Homo sapiens: one gene and its partners. The protein of the gene in region 3 purifies or fractionates together with the protein of the main gene of each other region. This does not show direct contact. Each region holds a gene or a part of one and is shown on either strand. Other genes may lie near its edges.

Region 1 (6,820 bases), on a different chromosome or scaffold from region 3:
CCACATTCTTGCCCATGGCTCTGGCCCACGTGGCTCCGGCGGAGCTGTCCTTCCAGCTTGTGTCCATTCTTACCTCACTCTGGCCGGTTCCTACACCACGGCCAGGAGGACGCATTTAGCCTCACGTCCCCATTTAAATCGTCCCCGTCTCTTGGGATCAAAGCCAAACTTCCACCTGGTGTGTGCTGCCCTGCCGGCTCCCTCTGGCCTCTCCTCAGCCCCTCCCTGGCCTGGGCCTCCGCCACCTGGCCTCCCTCCCTGTATTCTTCAAACTATCCAAGTGTGCTCCCTCCTGCCTCGGCCACTCTGTGTGTGCCCTCTGCCAGGTGTCCCGCAGCCCACATGTCTACCTGCCCCTCCACCCTTGGCTGTGCAAAACTCCAGGCCTCCCTGGGACCGTCACCCCAAAATGCTGAGGCGGCAGTTGTCACATGACCTGTCTACTGTCTATCTCCCCAACCAGGGGTGCTGAGGGGACCAGGTCTGGTGGGTCACGGTGCTGTCCGCCTGGGCCTCACCAGCAGAGGCCTGGCCTCTTTCCATAGCGCTGTCCCCACCCTGGGCCTGGATCTGTTTGGTTGGGGTGAAGAGGGGTGAAAGGGTCAGGCGGCAGGAGCCCTTTGGATGGTTCGGAGCCATCCCAGACTCCGGGTTGCCCCTCCCCCAGAAGATCCCGGTTGTCACCGTCCAAAAATAACCTTTCTGTGGGTATGTGTGCCAGGGCTGGGCCACACTGCCAGTGGGTATGTGTGCCAGGGCTGGGCCACACTGCCAGTGGGCAGAGCCAGGCCCTTTGGACAGTGGGGCATGACAATGACAGCTGCAGAGGGGGTTTCCTGCCCAGAGGGTTGTGCCACTCTTGGGGGGTGCCCCAGCCCGTGTCCTCTGCTGCATTCTCAACCCTATGTGGCCCCCCCAGGTGATCGGGCTGCTGGACGTATTCACTCCTGATGAGACCCTGGATGACTTCACGGACTTGTGAGTGCCGACCTGGGCTGGCCGCTGGGCACGAGGGGTGTTGGGCAGCTCTGGGCACTGGCTTCAGGTTCTAGGTTGGCAATGGGGTTCTCTTCCTGCAGCCTGAGTGGGGGATGCACACCGCCCACCCCCTCCCCATACCACTGTCCACCCCACGCCCTCCCCCACATGGTCCTGGGACCCACGGGCACTGGCACAGCTGGGCAGAGCTGGGGCTGCTGCCTCTCTCCACGCCTGGCACCTGGGCCCTCTCCAGCACCGGAGGTGTGAACCTTGGACCTGACCATTTGTTAACAGGAAGGTCCCGTGCTCGGGACCCTGGCACCAAGTGTGTGGCCGGTAACTGGAGCTGCTGACCTTTTCCAGCGGGTGGGGGAGAAGCGGTAGGGAGGACCCACCCTGCCCCTGCCCTGCAGCCGACCACCCTGGGACTCACACCCTGTCGGCCAAGAGTGAAGGGCCAGGCCGAGGAAGGCCTGGAGAGGGTAGCAGGCGCCTCCCGCCTGACTTGCAGAGGTCAAGTCAGTGGCCTCTGGGAAGGTGCTAAATACCATTCTCCTGTGTCTGTCTCCACCGGCCCAGCCGACCCCTCTGACCCAGATGCCTTGCCGCGCCCCCATCGCCCCCAGGCACCTCCCTCATTTCTGGCACAAAGTTGTGAAGTTGAAACCTGACTGCCTCCCTCCCCTGCCTGTGAAGACTCGAGTCCTGCTGCCTCTACCATGGAGCCTCAGCCCCTAGCCTGGCACGCAGGGCGCTTCAGCGGAGGGTTCAAAAACCCCAAGGCAGCCTCCTCCCTGCCTGACAGTCCTCAGGGTGGGAGGGGGGTGTGAGCGCTGCTGGCAGTAACAGTTGCGGGAGGATGGAGCCTGGCACTGCAAGGTGGGGCTGCGAGGACACCGAGGCCAGTGTGGATGTGTGCTGCAGGGGTGACCTTCCTGGGGGTGCCTGTTGGATCCGGGACGGGTCTGAGCCTGGGCCTGCTGGGTGGGTCTCTGGGATGCAGAGGCTGGCTCTGTCCGCTGACAGCGCTCCGGCCCCTCCCACAGTTACCTGGTGATGCCGTTCATGGGCACCGACCTGGGCAAGCTCATGAAACATGAGAAGCTAGGCGAGGACCGGATCCAGTTCCTCGTGTACCAGATGCTGAAGGGGCTGAGGGTACGGGCCCCGGGGGAGGCTGCAGGGAGGCAGGCAGGGCCTCGGGGCTGGGCAGAGGAGGGCCCTGTGGCTCTGAGAGGGTGCGCTGAAGCCTGCCAAATCCTCTGCCCCCCGCAGTATATCCACGCTGCCGGCATCATCCACAGAGTGAGTCCCGGTGGAGAAGCCGCTCATCAGCCCTCCCCCAGTGCAATCCCCCCGCCTCCACGTCCCACCTGTGAGGATGTGATGGGGTCTGGGTGCTGAGCCACGCCCTATGCACAGCCCCTGGTGGGAACCTGCCTGGGTGCCCAGGTACCTTGGTCTGCCCTTGAAGGGCTGCAGAGAGCAAGGGGGCCAGGTCCGGTGGCCCCATCTTTAGGTGCCACCCAGGCTCTTGGCTGTGCCCATGCTTGGGAGGGTGGGGCACAGTGGCCACCTTTCCTCTGCCCCCAGGACCTGAAGCCCGGCAACCTGGCTGTGAACGAAGACTGTGAGCTGAAGGTGTGTGCTGCCTGGCAGGGGGCCCTGAGGTGGGGCAGGGGCCCCCTCTGGATCTGCCCATCTATCCACCTGTCAGGCCTGGGCAGGGGGCCAAGGTCCCAGGCTCTGGGCAGTGGCTGAGGAGCTGGTGGGTGGGTGAGCCCAAGAGGCAGTGGTACACAACATGCCGTACCCAGGGCACCTGCTCCGTCCCGAGGGCTGCTGGGCTTGGTGCACTGGCCAGAGGGAGGAGCTCGGGGCAGTTTGGGGTCCGAGGGCGTGGCCTCAAGTCCTTGAAGGTTGTCAGGAGGCCCCAGCTTGGGAGCTTCAAGTCCAACCCCCCGGGGTCTCCTGGACCGTGGGTGGCCTGTCCGCTCCTTGGGAGTCCCCTAGAACCCACCTCCCCAATTCTTCCCACAGATCCTGGACTTCGGCCTGGCCAGGCAGGCAGACAGTGAGATGACTGGGTACGTGGTGACCCGGTGGTACCGGGCTCCCGAGGTCATCTTGAATTGGATGCGCTACACGCAGACGGGTGAGAAGCTGCCCAGAGATCTGGGCCTCTCAGGCTGCACCATCTGCTTCTCCACTTCTTCACGGACAGCCCTGTGGTGGCTGCTCCCAGGGAGGCTGTTGAGCTGGGGTGGGAGCCGGGCAGGTGGGCTGTGTTGGTGTCTCCTCCCTCCCCGTCTCATCCTGTCCCCCTGCCCACGGAGCTGACCAGGGCTTCTATCTCAGTGGACATCTGGTCTGTGGGCTGCATCATGGCGGAGATGATCACAGGCAAGACGCTGTTCAAGGGCAGCGACCGTATCCTCCAGCCGCAGGGCGGCACCAGGGGCGGGTGGGGATGGCTCCTGCCCAGGTGGGGGCAGTGGGGGCCCTGATCTCTGGCCCCCGAGCTGTGTTCCTGACCTCGGTGCAGACCTGGACCAGCTGAAGGAGATCATGAAGGTGACGGGGACGCCTCCGGCTGAGTTTGTGCAGCGGCTGCAGAGCGATGAGGTAAGGGGTGAGTGGGGAGCTGGGTGGGGGTGGGGGCGGACCTGGGCCTTGGTGTTGGCCCCTCACCCTTTCTTCCCACACAGGCCAAGAACTACATGAAGGGCCTCCCCGAATTGGAGAAGAAGGATTTTGCCTCTATCCTGACCAATGCAAGCCCTCTGGGTACGGCTGGCTAGTGTGGGGGCCACCGGGTGCTGGAGTGTGGGGCCTCCCGTGGTCTGGCCTGATGCACCTTCCCCCGCAGCTGTGAACCTCCTGGAGAAGATGCTGGTGCTGGACGCGGAGCAGCGGGTGACGGCAGGCGAGGCGCTGGCCCATCCCTACTTCGAGTCCCTGCACGACACGGAAGATGAGCCCCAGGTCCAGAAGTATGATGACTCCTTTGACGACGTTGACCGCACACTGGATGAATGGAAGCGTGAGTGGGGGGCTCCTGGCACGGCCTGTGTGGACCCAAGTGGGGGGCTCTGGGCAGGGCCTGTGTGGACCTGTGAGTTGGGGGCTCCGGGTAGGGCCTGTGTGGACCCGTGAGTTGGGGGCTCCGGGTAGGGCCTGTGTGGACCCTGTGGGCCCTGTGCAGGTGGCCAGGCTCAGAGTCCTAGATCCCCATCCCTGGGATGCAGGTCAGGTGAGGAGGATGGGAGGTCAGGGCAGCATGGGGCCGTGTGGCCTGGTGGAGATGACCTCTGGCTGGAGCTGGAAGTTGAAGGGAAGGGTGTTCCTGGCAGGCTCAGCACAGAGGCTGGCACAGAAGGAGCCGGGAGTGGTGAAAGGCAGCTGTGAGTCAGGGAACCAGGGCCCACTTAGCCCCTCCTGGCCCCCAGACCTGCTGCCCTTCCGCCATGTCCAGGCCAGAGACCTGGGCCACCCTGACACCCTCACCACGTCCGCTTGTCCCTAAGGCCTCTCTGCTCACACCTCCTGAATCTGTCCTTGCCTCTCCTTGCCCCATTTTTGTTTTTTGAGACGGAGTCTCACTCTGATGCCCAGGCTGGAGGGCAGTGGCACGATCTTGACTCACTGCAAGCTCCGTCTCCCGGGTACACACCGTTCTCCTGCCTCAGCCTCCCGAGTAGCCGGGACTACAGGCGCCCGCCACCAGGCCTGGCTAATTTTTTGTATTTTTAGTAGAGACGGGGTTTCACCGTGTTAGCCAGGATGGTCTCGATCTCCTGACCTCGTGATCCGCCCGCCTCGGCCTCCCAAAGTGCTGGGATTACAGGCGTGAGCCACCGCGCCCAGCCCTCTCCTTGCCCCACTTTAGGATCCCTCCCCCCTGGACAACTGTATACCCAAGACAGTCCCCAGGGCCTCGCCTGTCTCCCCCAGCCCCCGCTAAGCAGTCCAGACTCCAACCCCAACTGCTGGGGTCCATCATCCCCTATACCAGGGGCTATCCCCTCAACTTGGAGGGCTGGCCAAAGCCTGTGCAGCCTCAGGCTGGACTCAGAGAAGCCTCCCCAGCTCCCGCAGCTATGCTGCGGCCTGAGGCTGTGCTGGACCTGGCTTCATTTCTGCTCCAGGATGGCAGGCTGTGTCTTCTTCATGGCTGCATGACCAGCCTGGGGTGGGTGTGCCCGGGGAAAGTAGGTGTACACTGGGAGCCGTGCCATGTTTCAGGCCCTGTCCTGGCTCTGCCTCGGGTGCGGGACCTTGGTCCTCCACACTGGCTGGGTGGGGCTGGATGGGTTGAGATTCACATGTGCTCCTTACGACCACGGGTCCCTGGGTGCCCGCAGCAGGGCCTCCACCCTTCGCTGTGTGCATATTCGTGTGCTTATGAGTTTGGCTTTGTTTGATTAAAGGTTTCTGCTGCTAGAAAGATAACTTGAAAGCCATGGGCCATAGGATCCTCTCTGTAGTCCCCACCCACACAACTGTGGCTGAGGCCTCAGCTCTTAGGACAGACCGTGGTGGACATGTGGCCAAGCCCTGGCCACCTCCCCTTTCCCTGGAAAATCCAGATCTAGAGCAATGGCCTCTTCACACAAACCTTCTCTCAGTGGTTCAGACCACATTAGGATTAGAGAAGGGCCCCACGAGGCACCGCCAGGCGTGTCTGTGAGCGACTCCCAGGATGGAAGGCAAAGGCTGACCCCCCTCTCTGTTGTGCCCGCCCCCCCACCCCCGCCAGGTGTTACTTACAAAGAGGTGCTCAGCTTCAAGCCTCCCCGGCAGCTGGGGGCCAGGGTCTCCAAGGAGACGCCTCTGTGAAGATCTCTGGGCTCCGGGGTGGCAGTGAGGACCACCTTCACCTTCCACCTGAGAGGGGACTCTCGTTGCCACCTTGACCTTGGCTGGGGCTTGCATCCCAAGGCATCCATCAGAGCAGACGCCCGGGTTCCATGGACCCTCCTCCCCACGGCCATGCCTCTGCTCTTGGGCGCCCATCATGGAGGAGCACCTGAACTTTCTGGACAAGACCTCTGGCCGACCTGGGGATGGCCTCTGATCCCTGGAGCAGTGGCCCACTTGCCCGGTGCTCTCAGAAACCTCAGAGCTGGTGGGGCTCCAGATCAGGCCTTGGCCTCTGAGCCCTGCCTGCTCTGGGCCATGCAGAGGAAGGACAGAGGGTGGGCGCAGGGCACCAACTCAGGGACATCCCCTCTCCTGGGCGACGTCAGTGGACCTTCCTGCACCCCCAGCCTGGAATGTAAATCAGCTGTGTGGTGCCCGCGTGGCTGGAAGGAAATAGACCCTTTTGTAGCTCCCTGTTCTGGCTGTGCGTCCTCATGCCGGGTCCCACCTTAAGACCTCCGGGCCCTTGGCCTGCATGTAGAGGAGGCTGGCCTGATAGCTCAGACCCTTAGAGCCAGGAGGGGGGCCTGAGCATCCCATCTCTCCCAGGCCACAAAGCTGGTGCCCACTTCCCCCAGGCCTGTGCCAGTGATCTTCGAACCCCCACGTTAGGGCTTGGCCCCTCCCCTTTTACGGGGTGACCTGCTAATGGCTTAGACTCTAAGCCACTGTGTGTGGATCCTGAAGCCAGACCCAGGGGCAGGGCCTGATGGGGAGGAGTGTTAGGATCTACCCTAGCTCTCTGCATCCTCCAATGCCAGCAGGTCCCTGGGGGGAGGGGGCACGCTGGGCACGTTGAGACCCCTGTGGTGAAGTGGTGAGCGCCAGCCAGTCCCTGGGGGGACGGGGCACATTGGACATGTTGAGACCCCTCTGGCCCCTGTGGTGGATTGGTGAGCGCAGAGGGCTGGGTTTT
Region 2 (7,866 bases), on a different chromosome or scaffold from region 3:
AGCGATCCTCCCATGTTGACCTCCCAAAGTGCTGGGATTACAGGTGTGAGCCACTGCACCTGGCATTAATTTTGTTTTTTTTTTTTTTTTTGAGACAGGGTCTTGCTCTTGCCCAGACTGGAGTGCAGTGGCAAGATTACAGCTCAATGATGCTTTGAACTCCTGGGCTCAAGCAACCCTCCTCTGAGTAGCTAAGACTACAGGCACATGCCACTGCACTCAGCTAATTTTATGTTTGTTTGTTTGTAGACAGCAGGGTCTTGGTACGTTGCCCAGGTTGATCTTGAACTCCTGGCCTCAAGTGATCCTCCCACTTATTTTTGTATTTTTTGTAGAGATGGGGGAGGGAGTTGGGGGTGGTGGGGTGTCTCACTGTGTTACCCAGGATGGTCTTAAACCCCTGGACAAAAGTGATCCACCCCCCTCAGCAACCCAAAGTGCTGGGATTACAGGCGTGAGCCACCATGCCCAGCCCTTTCTTAAATTTAAGCAAACAAATTTTAATAATGATGGCTGACTCCTGTAATCCCAGCACTTTGGGAGACCAAGACAGGAGGACCATTTGAGCTCAAGAGTTCGAGACCAGCCTTGGCAACATGGTGAAACCCTGTCTCTACAAAAAATTTAAAAATTAGCTGGGTGTGGTGTGCACGCCTATAGTCCCAGCTACTTGGGAGGCTGGGGTGGGAGGACGGCTTTTGCCCATGAGGTGGAGGTTGCAGTGAGCCAAGATTTTGCCATTGTCCTCCAGCTTGGGCAACAGAGCCAGACCCTGTCTCAAAAAAGAAAAAAAAAAGCCTAGGCAACATAGTGAGACCCCATCACTACAAAAAATAGAAAAAATAGCTAGGTGTGATGGCACATGCCTGTAGTCTCACCTACTCAGGAGGCTGAGGCAGGAGGATCACTTGAGCCTGGGAAGTCAAGGCTGCAGTGAGCTGTGATCACATCACTGCACTCCATCCTGGGTGACAGAGTGAGACTCTGTCTCAAAAAAAAAAAAAAAAAAAAAAAGGAAAGAAAGAAAGGGAGGGAAGGAGGGAAGGAACAAAGGAAGGAACGAAGGAAGGAAGGAAGGGAAGGAGGGAGGAAGGAAGGAAGGAAGGAAAAAAGGAAGGAAAAATTTAGGCTGGGCACAATGGCTCACGCCTGTAATCCCTAGCACTTTGGAGGCCGAGGTGGGCCGATCGTGAGGTCAGGAGATCGAGACCATCCTGGCTAACATGGTGAAACCCCGTCTCTACTAAAAATACAAAAAAAATTAGCCGGGCGTGGTGGTGGGCGCCTGTAGTCCCAGCTACTCAGGAGGTTGAGGCAGGAGAATGGCGTGAACCCAGGAGGCGGAGCTTGCAGTGAGCCGAGATTGTGCTACTGCACTCCAGCCTGGGCAACAGAGCGAGACTCTGTCTCAAAAAAAAAAAAAATTAATTTAAAAGAAATTTTTTTTGAGACTGAGTTTCACTCTTGTTGCCCAGGCTGGAGTCCAGTGGCTCGTTCTCCACTCACTGCAACCTCTGCCTCCTAGGTTCAAGCGATTCTCCTGCCTCAGCCTCCCAAGTAGCTGGGACTACAGGCATGCACCACCAGGCCCGGTTAATTTTTGTATTTTTAGTAGAAACAGGGTTTCACCATGTTGGTCAGGCTGGTCTTGAACTCCTAACCTCAGGTGATCCACCCGCCTCAGCCTCCTCCTGCTGAGATTACAGGCATGAGCCGCCATACCCAGCTTTTTTTTTTTTTTTTTTTAAAGAACATGATTCAACTGTATTGCTCTCTATAAGAAACTCACTTTATAGACTGGTTCTGAAAGGATGGAAAAAGATATTTCATGCAAATATCTTTTTGCGTGACCAAAGAAGAGGAGGGCTGGCAATACTAATATCAGAAAAATTACTTGTCCAGGCCGGGCACGGTAGCTCACACCTGTAATCCTAGCACTTTGGGAGGCCGAGGCGGGTGCATCACCTGAGGTCAGGAGTTTGAGACCAGCCTAAAAAATATGGTGAAATCCTGTCTCTACTAAAAATACAAAAATTAGCCAGGCGTGGTCGTGCATGCCTGTAGTCTCAGCTACTCAGGAGGCTGAAACAGGAGAATCACCTGAACCCAGGAGACAGAGGTTGCCGTGAGCTGAGATCACACCACTGCACTCCAGCCTGGACGACAGAGCAAGACCCTGTCTCAAAAAAAGAAAAAAGAAAAATTACTTGTCCAAAAGGTTACAAGAGATAAAGAAGGCATTGTATGTTAATAAAAAGTTCAATACAGCAAGAAGATATAACAATTATAAACATTTATATACCTAATAACAGACCATCAGAACATATGAAGCAAAAATTGGTAGAATTGAAGGAAGAAATAGACAATTCCACAATAATAGTTAGAGACTTCAATGCCCCACTCCCAAGAATAAATAGAACAAACAGGAGACAAGTAAGGAAATAAAGGACTTGAGCGACACAGTAAGACAACCAGGTCTAACACATGTACAGACACTCCCCAGCAACAACAGCATCCACATTCTTCTCAGGCACACATGGGATATCCTCCAGGATGGACCATATGTTAGGCCACAGATTAAGCCTCAAGAGATTTTAAAAGGTAGACATCAGCCAGCTGTGGTGGCTTAGGCCTGTAATCCCAGCACTTTGGGAGGCTGAGGCAGGAGGATTGCTCGTGCCCAGGAGTTTGCAACCAGCCTGGGCAACACAGCCAGACTTCATCTCTACAAAAAGAGACAGAAGAAAAGGAGAAAGAGAGAAAGATAAGAAGGAAAGAAAGAAGAAATAAAAGAGATCATACCAAATATCTTCTCCAAGCACAATTGGATAAGGCTAGAAATCAATATGGGGGGGTTAAAAAAAAAAAGAAATCAATATCAAAGGAAAACTGGAAAATTCACAAATTTGTGGAAATTTACACACTCTTAAAAGAACCAATGGATCAAAGAAGAAATCACAAGGGAAATTAGAAAATACTCAGAAACAGGCCAGGCTGGGTGGCTCACACCTGTAATCCCAGCATTTTGGGAGGCCGAGGTTGGCGGATCACTTGAGGTCAGGCGTTTGAGACCAGCCTGGCCAACATTGTGAAACCCTGTCTCTACTAAAAATACAAAAATTAGCCAGGCGTGGTGGCAGGCACCTGTAATCCCAGCTACTTGGGAGGCTGAGGCAAGGGAATTGCTTGAATCCAGGAGAGGGAGGCTGCAGCGAGCAGAGATTGCACCAATGCACTCCAGCCTGGGCGACAGAGTGAGACTCCATCTCAAAATAAATAAATTAATTAAATAAATAGAGAAAATATTGAGAAACAAATGAAAACAAAAACACAGCATGCCAAAATTTACTGGACACAGTGAAAGCAGTGCTCAGGGGAAATTTTATAGCTATAAGTGCTTCAAAATCATAGACAGAAAATTGCCAGGGCCTGGGGGTATGGGGATGGGAGGAGGGAAGAGGAAGTTATTGTTTAATGGGGACAGAATTTCAGTTTCAGTTTAGCAAGAAGACCAGAATTTTAGAGATAGCTGATGGTGATGATTGCACAATATGAAATGAATGTACTTTGTTGTTGGGGTTTTTTTGTTTTGTTTTGTTGTTGTTGTTGTTGTTTTTTGAGAGGGAGTCTCGCGCTGTCGCCCAGACTGGAGTGCAGTGGCAAGATCTTGGCTCACTGCAAGCTCCGCCTCCCAGGTTCAAGCCATTCTCCTGCCTCAGCCTCCCGAGTAGCTGGGACTACAGGCGCCCGCCACCACGCCCGGCTAATTTTTTGTATTTTTAGTAGAGACAGGGTTTCACCGTGTTAGCCAGGTTGTGTTTTTGTTTTTTTTTTTTTTTTTCAGACGGAGTTTCGTTCTTGTTGCCCAGGCTGGAGTTTAGTGACTGTTGGAGTGAGTGAGCCATCTTGGCCCACGGCAACCTTCGCCTCCCAGGTCAAAGGCTTTTCCTGCCTCAGCGTCCTGAGTAGCTGAGGCTACAGGCATGGGCAACCACGCCTGGCTAATTTTAGTATTGTTAGTAGAGACGGGGTTTCACCATGTTGGCCAGGCTGCTCTAGTACTCCTAGGCTCAAGCGATCCGCCCACCTCGGCCTCCCAAAGTGCTGAGATTACAGAAGTAAGCCACCTTGCCCAGCTCCTTTGTATAAATAAATGATATTGATTTTCTTCTTGCAGCTCAGGAATTAGATCTGTTATTAGAATTTGCTTAAATTTAAGAAATGGCTGGGTACTGTGGCTCACCGCTGTAATCCCAGCACTTCGGGTTGCCGAGGCAGGCGGATTGCTTGCGTCCAAGAGTTCGAGGCCAGCCTCGGCAACACAGTGAGACCCGCCCGCTCTCTGCACCACTCCTTCCCCCCCTCCTTTCCCCGTCTCTACAAAAAATACAAAAATAAATAAATTAGTCCGGCATGGTGGTGACTGCCTGTGGTCCAGCTACGCAGGAGGCTGAGGTGGGAGGATCGCTTGAACCCCGGTGGTCGAGGCTGCAGGGAGCCATGATCGCGCGCGCCACTGAACACCAGCCTGGGCGACAAAGCAAGACCTTGTCCCAAAATAGATTAAATAAATAAATAAATAAATTTAAGGAAAAAGCAACTTGATTCGAAGATAAATAGTGATAGTGCAAGTGGTGCCGAACTAACGATAAATTTGGAAAACAGCGGCCCACGCGCAGAGCCCGTCCCAATTCTGGCAGCCTTTGGATTTGGCTTCCACGTTTTCCAGATTTCCCTCGGCCTCTAGCTCGCTTGCGTCAGAGGGGCCCCGAGGGGCGGCCCACCCGCTAGCCCCGCCCCCAACCGCTCACCGCCCCGCGAGCCCCGCCCCCTCGGCCTCCTCCTCATCGGCCGCCGTTGCGCGGCGCAGAGCGGCAGCAAGATGGCGGCGCAACAGCGGGACTGCGGGGGTGCTGCGCAGCTGGCGGGGCCGGCGGCGGAGGCTGACCCCCTAGGACGCTTCACGTGTCCCGTGTGCTTAGAGGTGTACGAGAAGCCGGTACAGGTGCCCTGCGGACACGTGTAAGCGGCGAGCCCGGGCCTGGTCGGGGGGCGCTTAACTGGGAAGGGAATGGAGCCGAGGAGCGAGATGGGTCTCAGGGCGGGAGCCAGAGGACCCACCCAGAGGGGCCTCCCGGGGGTGTCCCCCGGGGCTCCTAAGGGCCGTGAAAGCTGCCGGGGCGCTCTTCTGTCCCGCCCCGCTCACTCCTAAGTATCCCGTTCCTCCGCCCGTCTTAGCGGGGCAGCTGCTGTCTGTTGAGCGCCTGCGATGTTCCAGGCGGCCTGTCAGTCTCCTTCCCACACGTGATAGTGGACTCGTGCCCTGCGGGGACTTTAGGCTCCGAAGTCCGCCCTTGGAGAGCCGACGTTTCCTTTCTAGTCCACGTCGCTCTTAAAGCATAGGACATTTGGCGTCGTGTCTAGCTGTGGCGAGTTATTCTACTGTGCACTAAAGTCGGGAGAAACGCTGAACTAGACTAAAACAACAAAAGGGAAGTCTTTATGGGGATCTGGCCAGTTTGCCCTTAGCTGTGAAAGGGGGGTGGGAGTTGGCAGATGGGATTGTTAGCATTCTACTTCCTGTGTAGGAGGTTTGTTTCTTTCAGTTTTCAATTAAGCCTTCATGACCTGAATATTGTGAATAGAGTGGTTATAATGATTAAAGCAGATATGTGTATAAATGTCCAGTCCAGGTCCTGGGCTGTGGCCGGGGCTTTCGAGGTTGGTCAGGTTGGTCGATTTGAATCTAAGCCTTGTTCCATCAGACGCACAAACACATCTGAGTTGAAAGAATTGTAGACAACGTGGCCACCTGCTTCTTGCCTCAGAATTGGCTTTTCCTCTGGCCCCTCTCAGTGCTTATCGTGGGATCACCTTGGCATTGGTCTTGGCAGCGGGCACAGTAGCCATTGCACTCCATGGGCATTATTCTATAGCCACCCTGCAGCGGGGGAGGGTTGGCAGCCATTTTACAGGTGAATACACTGAGGGTCCGAGGCTCTCTTAGGGAAGGGTCACCGTGGCCTAGCTCTTCCCAGATGTACTGCAGGTGACCATTTCAGTAGTCCAGAGAACAGTGCTTGGCACCTAGCTGGCTGCTTTTTGCTTCATCATGTTGCTTTAGGCTATTCATCTTTGCAATTCGGTTAGCCTGGAACTCTTCCCCCCACCCCTCCCTTTTCAGGCTTCAAGTCCCAGGTTAAGTTACCTCACCAAATACCATCCCCATCTAAATTACTTCCCCCACTTCCTTTCTGGGACTTAACTTCCTTCTCCTTGCTTGCACAGAGCAAAACTTAACAGCTCATGACGGAGTGGCCATATCTTTATTGCCCCTGAACTGACTGGAATGGCCTCTGTGTGCCAGATTTTGGGGTAGACTCTGCCTTCAGAGTTTACAGTCCAGTGAATTGATTATAAATAAGTACCAATGACTGGTCAAACTATTGTAAAAATTCATTCTGCAAGTGGGAGGGTATTTCAGGGATCACACCTCTGTGCGTGGGGTGAGTGATCAGGTAATGGTTGAATGAACTAATAAGTCGTGTAAGCAAGCTTCACGAGAGTTGAAGTGGTCTTTAGCTTTTTCATTGAATCCACTTATCCTTGGATCAGATTTACCTGATTTTGGATTAATTCAGTGGATTTCATTTACTATTAACATTTGTAAAAAGGCTAGACCCAGCACAGTTTGCTAAATGAAGAGCAGCAAAATTTGAGATTTTCTTGAGCTTGGTGAACCTTTCCTAGGTCAGAGGGCAAGGAACAGTACTGGTTTTCAAACCTTGGCTCTTCTCTATCCTCGCTGTCCTAGCCCCACGTGATCAGCAGTTCAGTGCAAATTGAAGACAGATGGAAGCACCTCTGTGAGGGCAGCCCAAATCCCCGCTAGCTCCAACCGACTGCTTTCTCCTGTGCCTAGTTGATTTTTACCTTTTGTGCTTGGAAAGTTGAGCATCACTGCAACTCTGGCTGGGGCATTGGATTTTTATAAAACTTTATTTCAAGCCCTGAATGACTGTGTTCTCCAATCTGGTAGAATACAGCTGGAGAAAGGCAGCTGGCTGGGTGCCCAAGAGAAGGGAATTTCTTCCTAGCACTGTGACGGAGTGGAGCATCGGAAGGCTGAACTAGAAAAGGGCGCATAAGTAGGAAATAGAAACTGAAAAGCCATCCCAGGATATTTGAGTTGTTCAAAAGCAGGCTGGTAGTTTGGGCATGTCTCAGGCACAAAGTGACTCGTGAACATTTGATAGATGAGCTGTACCTGTGTGTGTGCTTGAGAAGAGACTTCGAGCTGCTTTTATCTGCATGCTGGGTTTGGTTCCATTATACTCACTGGACCCTCTGTGCTCTCTTGGGTTCCTCTTGTCATCTGCCTTTGTGAACAGGCAACACAAGTGATGGCCACAGGCCCTGCCTGTCTCTACTGCCTCATCACTTGCCCTTCTCACCATGGTCTACCGCATCATGGCCCCCAAGGTCTGCCTGCCTTCCTTTCCAGTCCTCATTTGTGTGTGGCGTGATCTTGGTGTGGAGCTCTGCACCCAGATCTGTGTGGCTGTCCTCGTAATCAGGTCCCACCCAGCTCAAATGCCAACTCCTCAGAAGCAGCTTTCTATGATCACCCCAGCTGGTCTGTTTGCCATATTTCCTTCATATTTTTAATCACTATCTGAAATTAACATTTGTGTTTCCCTTCACTCTAGAATGTAAGCATCATGAGAACAGGGCTTTGTCAAGTTTCCATTGCCCTCAGTGGTGAATGAATAGACTCCCTCACCTTCTCTGTACCTGGTCTGGAATTTTGCCTAACAGCATTAACATCTAACTTAATGACAAGGAGGAAGGAGATTCTTAGAGGCA
Region 3 (8,077 bases):
GATGTTCTACTGTGGGTAAAATGCTATCAAACCAAATCACATGCTACAGAGAAATCTTTCAAGAAAGAAAGAGTCAGTTGATGGTGGCAAACTTTGCTGTTGTCTTATTTTAAGAAATTACTGTAGCCACCCCAGCCTTCAGCAACCACCATCCTGATCAGTTAGCAGCCATCAAGATCAAGGCAAGAAACTCCACCAGCAAAAAGATTATCACTTGCTGAAGGCTCAGATGATTGTTAGCATTTTTTTTTTGAGAAGGAGTCTCACTCTGTTGCCCAGGCTGGAGTGCAGTGGCGTGATCTTGGCTCACTGCAACCTTCGCCTCCCAGGTTCAAGTGATTCTTGTGCCTCAGCCTCTCAAGTAGCTAGGATTACAGGTGCCTGCCACCACGCCTGGCTAGTTTTTGTATTTTTAGTAGAGATGGAGTTTCACCATATTGGCCAGGCTGGTCTCGAACTCCTGACCTCAGGTGATCTGCCCACCTTGGCCTCCCAAAGTGCTGGGATTACAGGCGTGAGCCACCAGGTCCAGCCGATTGTTAGCATTTTTTAGCAATAAAGTATTTTTAAATTAAGGTATGAGCATTTTTTATAGACATAATGGTATTGCACACTTACTGGACTATAGTATAGTATAAACATAAGATTTATATGCATCGGGAAAGCAAAAAATTTATATGACTTGGTTTATAATAATATTTGGTTTATTCTGATAGTCTGGAAGTGGACTGGAAATATCTCTGAGCTATGCCTGCCCATTAGTTTCTTGGTAGCTGTCTTGGTTATCAGGTTGGAAAAAAAAGTGTATACTAAGTTTGGTACTTTCTGTGGTTTCATGCAGCCACTGAGGGTCTTGGAATGTATCCCCTGCAGATAAGGGGGAACTGCCATCATCTGCTAAAGACCACAAGAGTTTGGGCTACAGTGATGGAGCTCACTCTTGAGTAAGTTATGGGAGAGTTCGGTAAAGTTGTTTTCTGTGAGGATATTTTAGGAAGTCCTAGATCTATTATGTTGCCTCAGCAAGATAAGAGGTGTCTCATTGGGTATAAGCCCAAATACCTGAAAGGGCCTAGGAAGGTAATTTAAACGAGACTGACAGCCCATTCCCAGTCTAAAGGAGTCAACATGGCTTCAGTCAGTTGTTGACATATGGGAATACAGTGTGAAAGCAAAACTGGAGGCCCATATTATTAAATTTGAAATTTCCCAGTTTTAAAATAGTGGCCATTTATTTAAAAAAAGTTTAAATACTTTGTGTGTGCTAAATAATCATTAAGGACGCTTCCAATACTTGCTGTTTAACTCAGTGGTCCTAAAGCAGTAAAAATAAGCAAAAAAATCACTAAAATTCGTATAGCCGTTTTCACTTCCCTTCATGTTACTTAGGTATAGAGCAGTATATTTTAAGGAATTGTTCACTCAATATGTACTCAAACCAGTTGTGTTCTCTCCATCCCACTCTCCTACCACCAGCTCAGGCAACTCCACATCTTCAAGAAAACAAAGTATAGCTCCAGCCTCACAAAAGATTGAGGACCTGGCTCTAACCTTTCTAGTTAAACCTGCTTTGTAAAAATTCGCTTCCAACTTCAAGGAAGAGCTAGTTCCTAAATTACTTAAACTGCTACTGTTCATTCTTCAAGGCTAGCATTACTCTGATACCAAAACTTGTTACAGACAAGCACAAAAATCAGTAACAATGGACCAATTTTATTAATTATAAATACATTTTAATCCTAAATAAAAGATTAACAAATCAAACCCAGCATGGCTTTCATTTGATCAAAAAATAATAGAACATGACAAAGCAGAGTTTATTTCAGAAATGTAAGAATGTGTTGAACACTAGGAAATCAATGAGCATAATTCATTATATAAAAGAGTCAGAGTAAAAAACAAATATAGTGATAGAGGCTAAGAGACAGTTGGTAAAATTTTGCACTCTTTCCTGATTTAACAGCATGTAGTAAAACAGGATAGAAGAAAATTTCTTTAAAGATGATAGTGTATTTTCAGAACACCAACTAGCAGGCGCAGTGGCTCACGTCTGTAATCCCAGCACTTTGGGAGGCTGAGGCGGGTGGATCACCTGAGGTCAGGAGTTCGAGACCAACCTGGCCAACATGGTGAAACTCCATCTCTTCTAAAAATACAAAATTAGCCAGGCATGATGGCATGTGCCTGTAGTCCCAGCTACCCGGGAGGCTGAGGCAGGAGAATTGCTGGAACCCAGGAGGCAGAGGTGGCAGTAAGTCCAGATTGTGCCACTGTATTCCAGCCTGGGCGACACAGCGAGACTCCAGCTCAAAAAAAAAAAAAAAGAATACCAACTAGCACTAGCACCAAATGGGCACATGCTTGCCTTACTGCATTAAAGCTGGATATCCATTATCTTGTCCTGTAGTCTTAAACATTTTTCTGATGTTTTGACCAATGCAATAGGAAGAAAGAAACGCATTATTTGCAGGTGATAATGATTGTCTGTGTACAAATTCATAGAGATGAGCTGTCAAGCTATTAGAACTAACAAGACATTTTTTCATAGTGTGGTAGGATACAAGGTAAATAAACAAAAGTCAATAGCTTTCCTAAATTACAGCAATAAGAAATATCTCACTTACAAAAAAACTATAAAATATCTAGGAACAAACTTCCCAAGGATTATGCAAACCTATGTGATTTTTTTTTTTTTTTTACAGATGCTGATGCAGATCTGAAAAAAAATTGTTAATGCATCTAAAGATACAGAAAACAAGTATTTCTGAATGGAAAGACCCATGATATTGAAAATTTTGAAAAAGAAGAGAATTAGGAGAGGTTCCTTTATGAAAAGGCAAATATATTAAATATGTAATGATTATAACTGTGGCATATTTTAGGAATAAGCAGATAATTAATAGAGGAGAATGTTCAGAAACAGATATATACGTGTATGTATACCTATGTATATGTATATGCAAATTTAGGTTGTAATTAACAGTGGCACTTCAAAGTAGTGAGGAAAGAATATTCACTAAATGACATGGGGGCAACTGGTCAACCATTTGGCAAAAATAATCTCTTAGTAAACTATTTTATTTCCAGGAATTAATTCCAAGAAGTAAATGGACAAATGTGAAGAAATGCCTGTTGAAGGATTTTTTTGGGATAGTGAAAAATAGAAAACCACTCAAACGTCTATTCAGTAGATTATTTCAAATGTGTGTGTCTATTTGTGTGTACGTAGTATACGCATAAGTTATGGAATGCCATGAGTCTACTTTAAAATATGGCCGGGTGCAAGATGGCTCACACCTGTAATCCCAGCACTTTGGGAGGCCAAGGCAGGTGGATCACCTGGGGTCAGGAGTTCGAGACTGGCCTGGCCAACATGGCGAAAACCTGTCTCTACTAAAAATACAAAAATTCGCGGGACGTGGTGGCGCACATCTGTAATCCCAGCTACTCAGGAGCCTGAGGCACGGGAATCGCTTGAACTCGGGAGGCGGAGGTTGCAGTGAGCCAAAATGGCGCCACTGCGCTCCAGCCTGGGCGACAGAGCGAGGTTCTGCCTAAATAAATAAATAAAATGATGAAACAGATTTAAACTTAATGGAATGGAAGGATAGCCACATAATCTTTAAAGTGAAAAAAAAATCAGGTTCTAAATCTATAGGTATTCTTTGATTACATTTTTTTCAATGTGTAGAGGCATAGAAAAGTCCAGAAGGATCTATAATGAGCTGTTTAATTTTCATTTCCTATGGGGTAGATCCTTTGTTGCATGGAAGATTATTTCACTCTGTTAGCTCTCTTTACATCAGTAGGAATACATCCTCATGGTTTTAAACATCTTGAGGGAGCTTTCCTGACACTCTACTCTAGGTAAATATGCTCGCATAGCACTCTCTATTCACCATATTACCTATAAATCATATTGCACTTTTTAACTTTTCTAAACTACTTTTTGCTTTCTTTTCTAGATTATAAAATCTTGAGGGCAGGGATAGTATGTAAAGGTTCCCTTGTGAGCAAATAACCGTCACTTATTGAACTCTGTGTGCCAAATACTGTGCTAAATGCTTTCAATAATCTCACTCATAGGGAGATATTACTACCATCTCCATTTTGAGGATGAAGATATTGAAAGATTATGAAGTTTCTCCCAAATGCCATTGCCAGGCCTGTGTGACTCTTGGTCGTTACACGGTGATCAATAAAAATTTGTTTCATAGGAAAGAAATACAGCCAGCCGTGGCTTTAAGATCACTGGGTGATACAGTTGGACCAGAAACCCTTTAAACTCCTTCGTCAGACACAGACTCGCAAGCCCCGCCCAGGACGACCGCCCGCGCGCGTATGGATAAGCGTGCAGGGGCGGGGCGAGCTTGTAGGAGTGGGGCGGAGACAGATCTGACTGGCCAACGTCGGGCGGAAGTCGGGAGGTTGGGTGGTCTGTAAACGCTGGCTTGTGACAGGGAGGGGGAGGAGGAAGGCCTTCGTAAAGGTTGCATCTCCGTCCCTTCGCTCCCGGGGACCCGCGGGAAAAAAAAAAATCCAACACCCAGGCCCCGCGGCTAGCCCCTTCCCACAGGCTCTCTCCGCTCGATTTTGTCACCGTTATGTGGGAAGCGAATCCAGTGAGTAGCCGGGCGGGACGGGGCGGGCCCAGGGGGCGGGGTTGATGAGAGAGGGGCGGGAGGGGGTCACCGGAACTGCTTCCCCGCGCTCGCTTCAGTCTGGGTGTTGAGTTCCGGGACCGGAGTTCCCGGGCCTTTTGGCTTCTGTAGTCTGTACCTTTTTAAGCAGTGGAAGTGCCTGGGTGGATTCTCCAATGCTTTATTGTTTTCTTGTTACAATTATTTATTTTACTTCCCGTGATGTTTCAGCCTCATCCCTTCACCATTTGTTGTTGTTGTTGTTTTTGAGACGGAGTCTCGCACTGTTGTCCAGGCTGGAGTGCAGTGGCGTGATCTCGGCCCACCGCAACCTCCGTCTCCCGGGTTAAAGCGATTGTCGTGCCTCAGCCTCCCGACTGCCTTCACTGTTTTTTGAAACTTTGTGTTTTGCTTTCTAATTGGAGTAACTGGCCTTGGAACCTGTAGTCAGTCATTTGCCTCAGGTTTACCTGCCAGTCCCACCAGTCTAAAGCAAGGGAATTGGGACCCCCTTGTCTTGAATGGGCCTAAGAGGAGCCATCAGTTCTCCTTTTCCCTTCTTGGTGGACAGTCGTTTAAAACTTGGAGTATGGACTGTATGTTCTTAGATGTTTTCGTTCGGTGGACAAAGTGATCTGGAGCATTTCAACTGCAAGTCTGCCTTCTTCCTTGGCTGACTCTGGTATTTTCATTATGACTTCATGTGTCTTTGTCTACTTTGCTTTTATACATTTATTTATTTAAAGTGCAACGTAGGGGCCGAAAACTTTAGTACCTTTCCTCACCACCCATTGTAAGGATCACAGCCACCACTCCTTAAAACAGAAGATAGGTTAACAAGGTAAAAGCAGAGCAAATCTAATCAAAGTTTTACACCACCAGGCACTTCAGAGACCAGGGAGATCTCTATTTTTATGCGTAGGACCCATGAAGAATAGACAACTGTGTAAAAATGTGACTGGACAAAGGATATACTCTAATGTTAATAAACTGAGGAAGGAAGCCCAGCAAGGTCTGTTTGTTCAGATTCTTCTTGGCCTCTCTGTGTATCATTTCTTCCTCCTACGGAGGAGGAAGGTCCCTTCTGGAATGAGGGTCTTAGCGACCTACTATCAGGCAAGGTAGATTAGAGAATTTCTTTATGGCCAGTTCCTATAGACAATGGCAGGGAAAGCTTAATAGTTCCAGTTTTTATGGCTTGCTTTGTAGGAGAGGGATCCTAGTTTCTATCACTCACCTTGGGGAAGAATTCTGGTTTCTGTGACTCACTTCTGGGACGAAAGATGGGCAGGAGACAGAAGGGCAGGAGATCAGAGGGAGAGACTGCTTCCGAGGCTGCTTCTGAGGCCTTCCAATCTCTTTTAGTTCAAAGTATTCAGCATGCCAAAGTGTCATACTTCGGGGTAGTATTTTCTGAGCCCCAACACAACCCTCAGAGAGTGGGATCTATTTGCCAAGAGTATTCTTCTGTTGTTATGGTTGAAACTGCCTGGTAAGGTGGCAGATGTATGGTATTTAAAACTTAGGAGTTGACTGGAAAAATGGTAGAATCACATTTCAGCAAGTTGTTGGACTAAATACAGTCGTGCGCCTCCTAACAATGGGGATATGTTCTGAGAAGTTCATTGCTGGGTGATTTTTTTCATTGTGCCAACGTCATAGAGTGTACTTTCATAAGCCTGCTACACACCTAAGGCTATATGGAATAGCCTATTGCTCTTAACCTAGAAATCTGTACAGCATAGTATTGTACTGAATACTGTAGGCATTCGTAACACAATGGAAAGTATTTATGTATCTAAACATAGAAAAGATACAGTAAAATAAAGTGTTAACAATCTTTGGGACCACTTGTATATGCGATCCATGGTTGACTGAAAGCTTTTATGCAATGCATAATTGTGTATGAAACATAAGAAACTACTCCTATGCTGAGATAACTGCATAAATTTACTTTAATAACCCCTAATTTCCATATTTGCAATAATTTCCTATAATCAGTATTCTTCCCCTCTCATTTCTGGAATATATTTCCAGATAAGTTAGAAAGTTTATCAGTACATTTCCCTATGTTTTTAAGTTAAGTTTTTATCCAGTAGAAACTAGTCTGTTGGTCTGGATTTGGTAGTTGCACATTATGGTTCCTTCTTGTGCATCATATAACAATAGTCATCATCTTAGTATTTTCGATTCATACGTATAATACTCTCTTCAAGCTGCATTAGAGGAAAGTAATTACTTGTATTTGATTTTAGCAAAAATAATTTAGAATAATGAGAATGTGCTCTCTGCTTATATATTCAGTTTCACTATCTGTCATCAACAACCTTCATTTTGTATTTATATCTTTATGTAGCTATTATTCCCTTTTTGTTATCAGTCCTTCTTAATTTTTCCATAACAAACCCTTTAGCCACCCAAGTATATGTCTTACTCAAGGTTTTAAATCTTTCACTATATTGTAAGATCCACAAGGACAGGGGTTTTTCTCTGTTATTTTTCCTATAGTATCTTCAACTAGAGAACAGAACCTGACACATAGTAGGCACTCAATAAATATTTGTTGAATTCATGATGGTGGTTGTACCAGCAAGGACTAAAGATAATTCTTTGCTCCTACTATGAATTTTCCCTCCTGCGTCACACATACATCAGAATTTGCTGTTGGATTATTTGTGTGTTTGTGAGAATTATAAAGGCATTAATGAATGTCTTATATACTTGATTTGTTATATCATTATCTCATTTCTTTGTAAGCAATGGGTTTTCTTTGAAATCACCTGTGTGATTTTGCTAATTTCAGCAGAGCAGGCTGACTTTTGTTAAAAGTGGGGAATCCTCCACAGATCATCTCACATTCTTCTTTTGCCACCCAAATAAGACATATTTGTCTTACTGCTACTGTATTTTATTACTACTAATAGTTTTTCTTCCTATAAGCATATGAATGATATCAGTAAGCGCAATTTGGTTTTAAAAATCAACATTCTACGTGTGGGTTTCTCTAGTAATTTGTTAGTTTATTTTAGTTTCGCTTTCCTGGTTTCACTTACCACAATTTCACTTACCAGAAGTCAGCTGCGGTCTGAAAATATGAAATGGAAAATTCCAGAAATGAACAATTAATAACTTTTAAGTTGCATACTGTACTGTGTAGTGTGATAAAATCTCATGCCATTGTGCTCCATCCTGCCTGGGGCCACGAATCATCCCTTTGTCCAGCATATCCACACTGCATATACTCTACCTGCCTGCTGGTCATATAATAACATGTAATGTCACTCACTTATTTATTGAGCACCTGTTATAAGCTAGTTAGTGCGAAGTCCCAGGGTTTACAGTGGTGAACAGAACAGACTAGGCTCCAGCCTTTATGGGTTTGCAGTCTGGTGCAGGCAGGCAGATATTAAACAAATAATTATGCAAATACATTTAAT

The links. The genes of interacting proteins can lie anywhere in the genome.
Region 1: the proteins of PARP11 (region 3) and MAPK12 purify together in Homo sapiens (affinity purification with mass spectrometry; 3 studies listed by BioGRID and IntAct, with this or other methods). This does not show direct contact.
Region 2: the proteins of PARP11 (region 3) and RNF114 purify together in Homo sapiens (affinity purification with mass spectrometry; 4 studies listed by BioGRID and IntAct, with this or other methods). This does not show direct contact.

Annotation. Positions count from the first base shown.
Region 1 is NC_000022.11:50,252,401-50,259,220, reverse strand, and holds the end of MAPK12 (mitogen-activated protein kinase 12), read left to right. Parts: intron 1-919; coding exon 920-978; intron 979-2,027; coding exon 2,028-2,139; intron 2,140-2,256; coding exon 2,257-2,286; intron 2,287-2,574; coding exon 2,575-2,622; intron 2,623-3,021; coding exon 3,022-3,136; intron 3,137-3,339; coding exon 3,340-3,411; intron 3,412-3,526; coding exon 3,527-3,606; intron 3,607-3,689; coding exon 3,690-3,768; intron 3,769-3,850; coding exon 3,851-4,024; intron 4,025-5,740; coding exon 5,741-5,820; 3' UTR 5,821-6,320; downstream 6,321-6,820. UniProt on the Homo sapiens protein: Serine/threonine kinase which acts as an essential component of the MAP kinase signal transduction pathway.
Region 2 is NC_000020.11:49,931,531-49,939,396, forward strand, and holds the start of RNF114 (E3 ubiquitin-protein ligase RNF114), read left to right. Parts: upstream 1-4,866; 5' UTR 4,867-4,882; coding exon 4,883-5,022; intron 5,023-7,866. UniProt on the Homo sapiens protein: E3 ubiquitin-protein ligase that promotes the ubiquitination of various substrates. In turn, participates in the regulation of many biological processes including cell cycle, apoptosis, osteoclastogenesis as well as innate or adaptive immunity.
Region 3 is NC_000012.12:3,869,757-3,877,833, reverse strand, and holds the start of PARP11 (protein mono-ADP-ribosyltransferase PARP11), read left to right. Parts: upstream 1-4,434; 5' UTR 4,435-4,604; coding exon 4,605-4,622; intron 4,623-5,877; exon of another isoform or gene 5,878-7,662; intron 7,663-8,077. UniProt on the Homo sapiens protein: Mono-ADP-ribosyltransferase that mediates mono-ADP-ribosylation of target proteins. Plays a role in nuclear envelope stability and nuclear remodeling during spermiogenesis. Inhibits the type I interferon activated signaling pathway.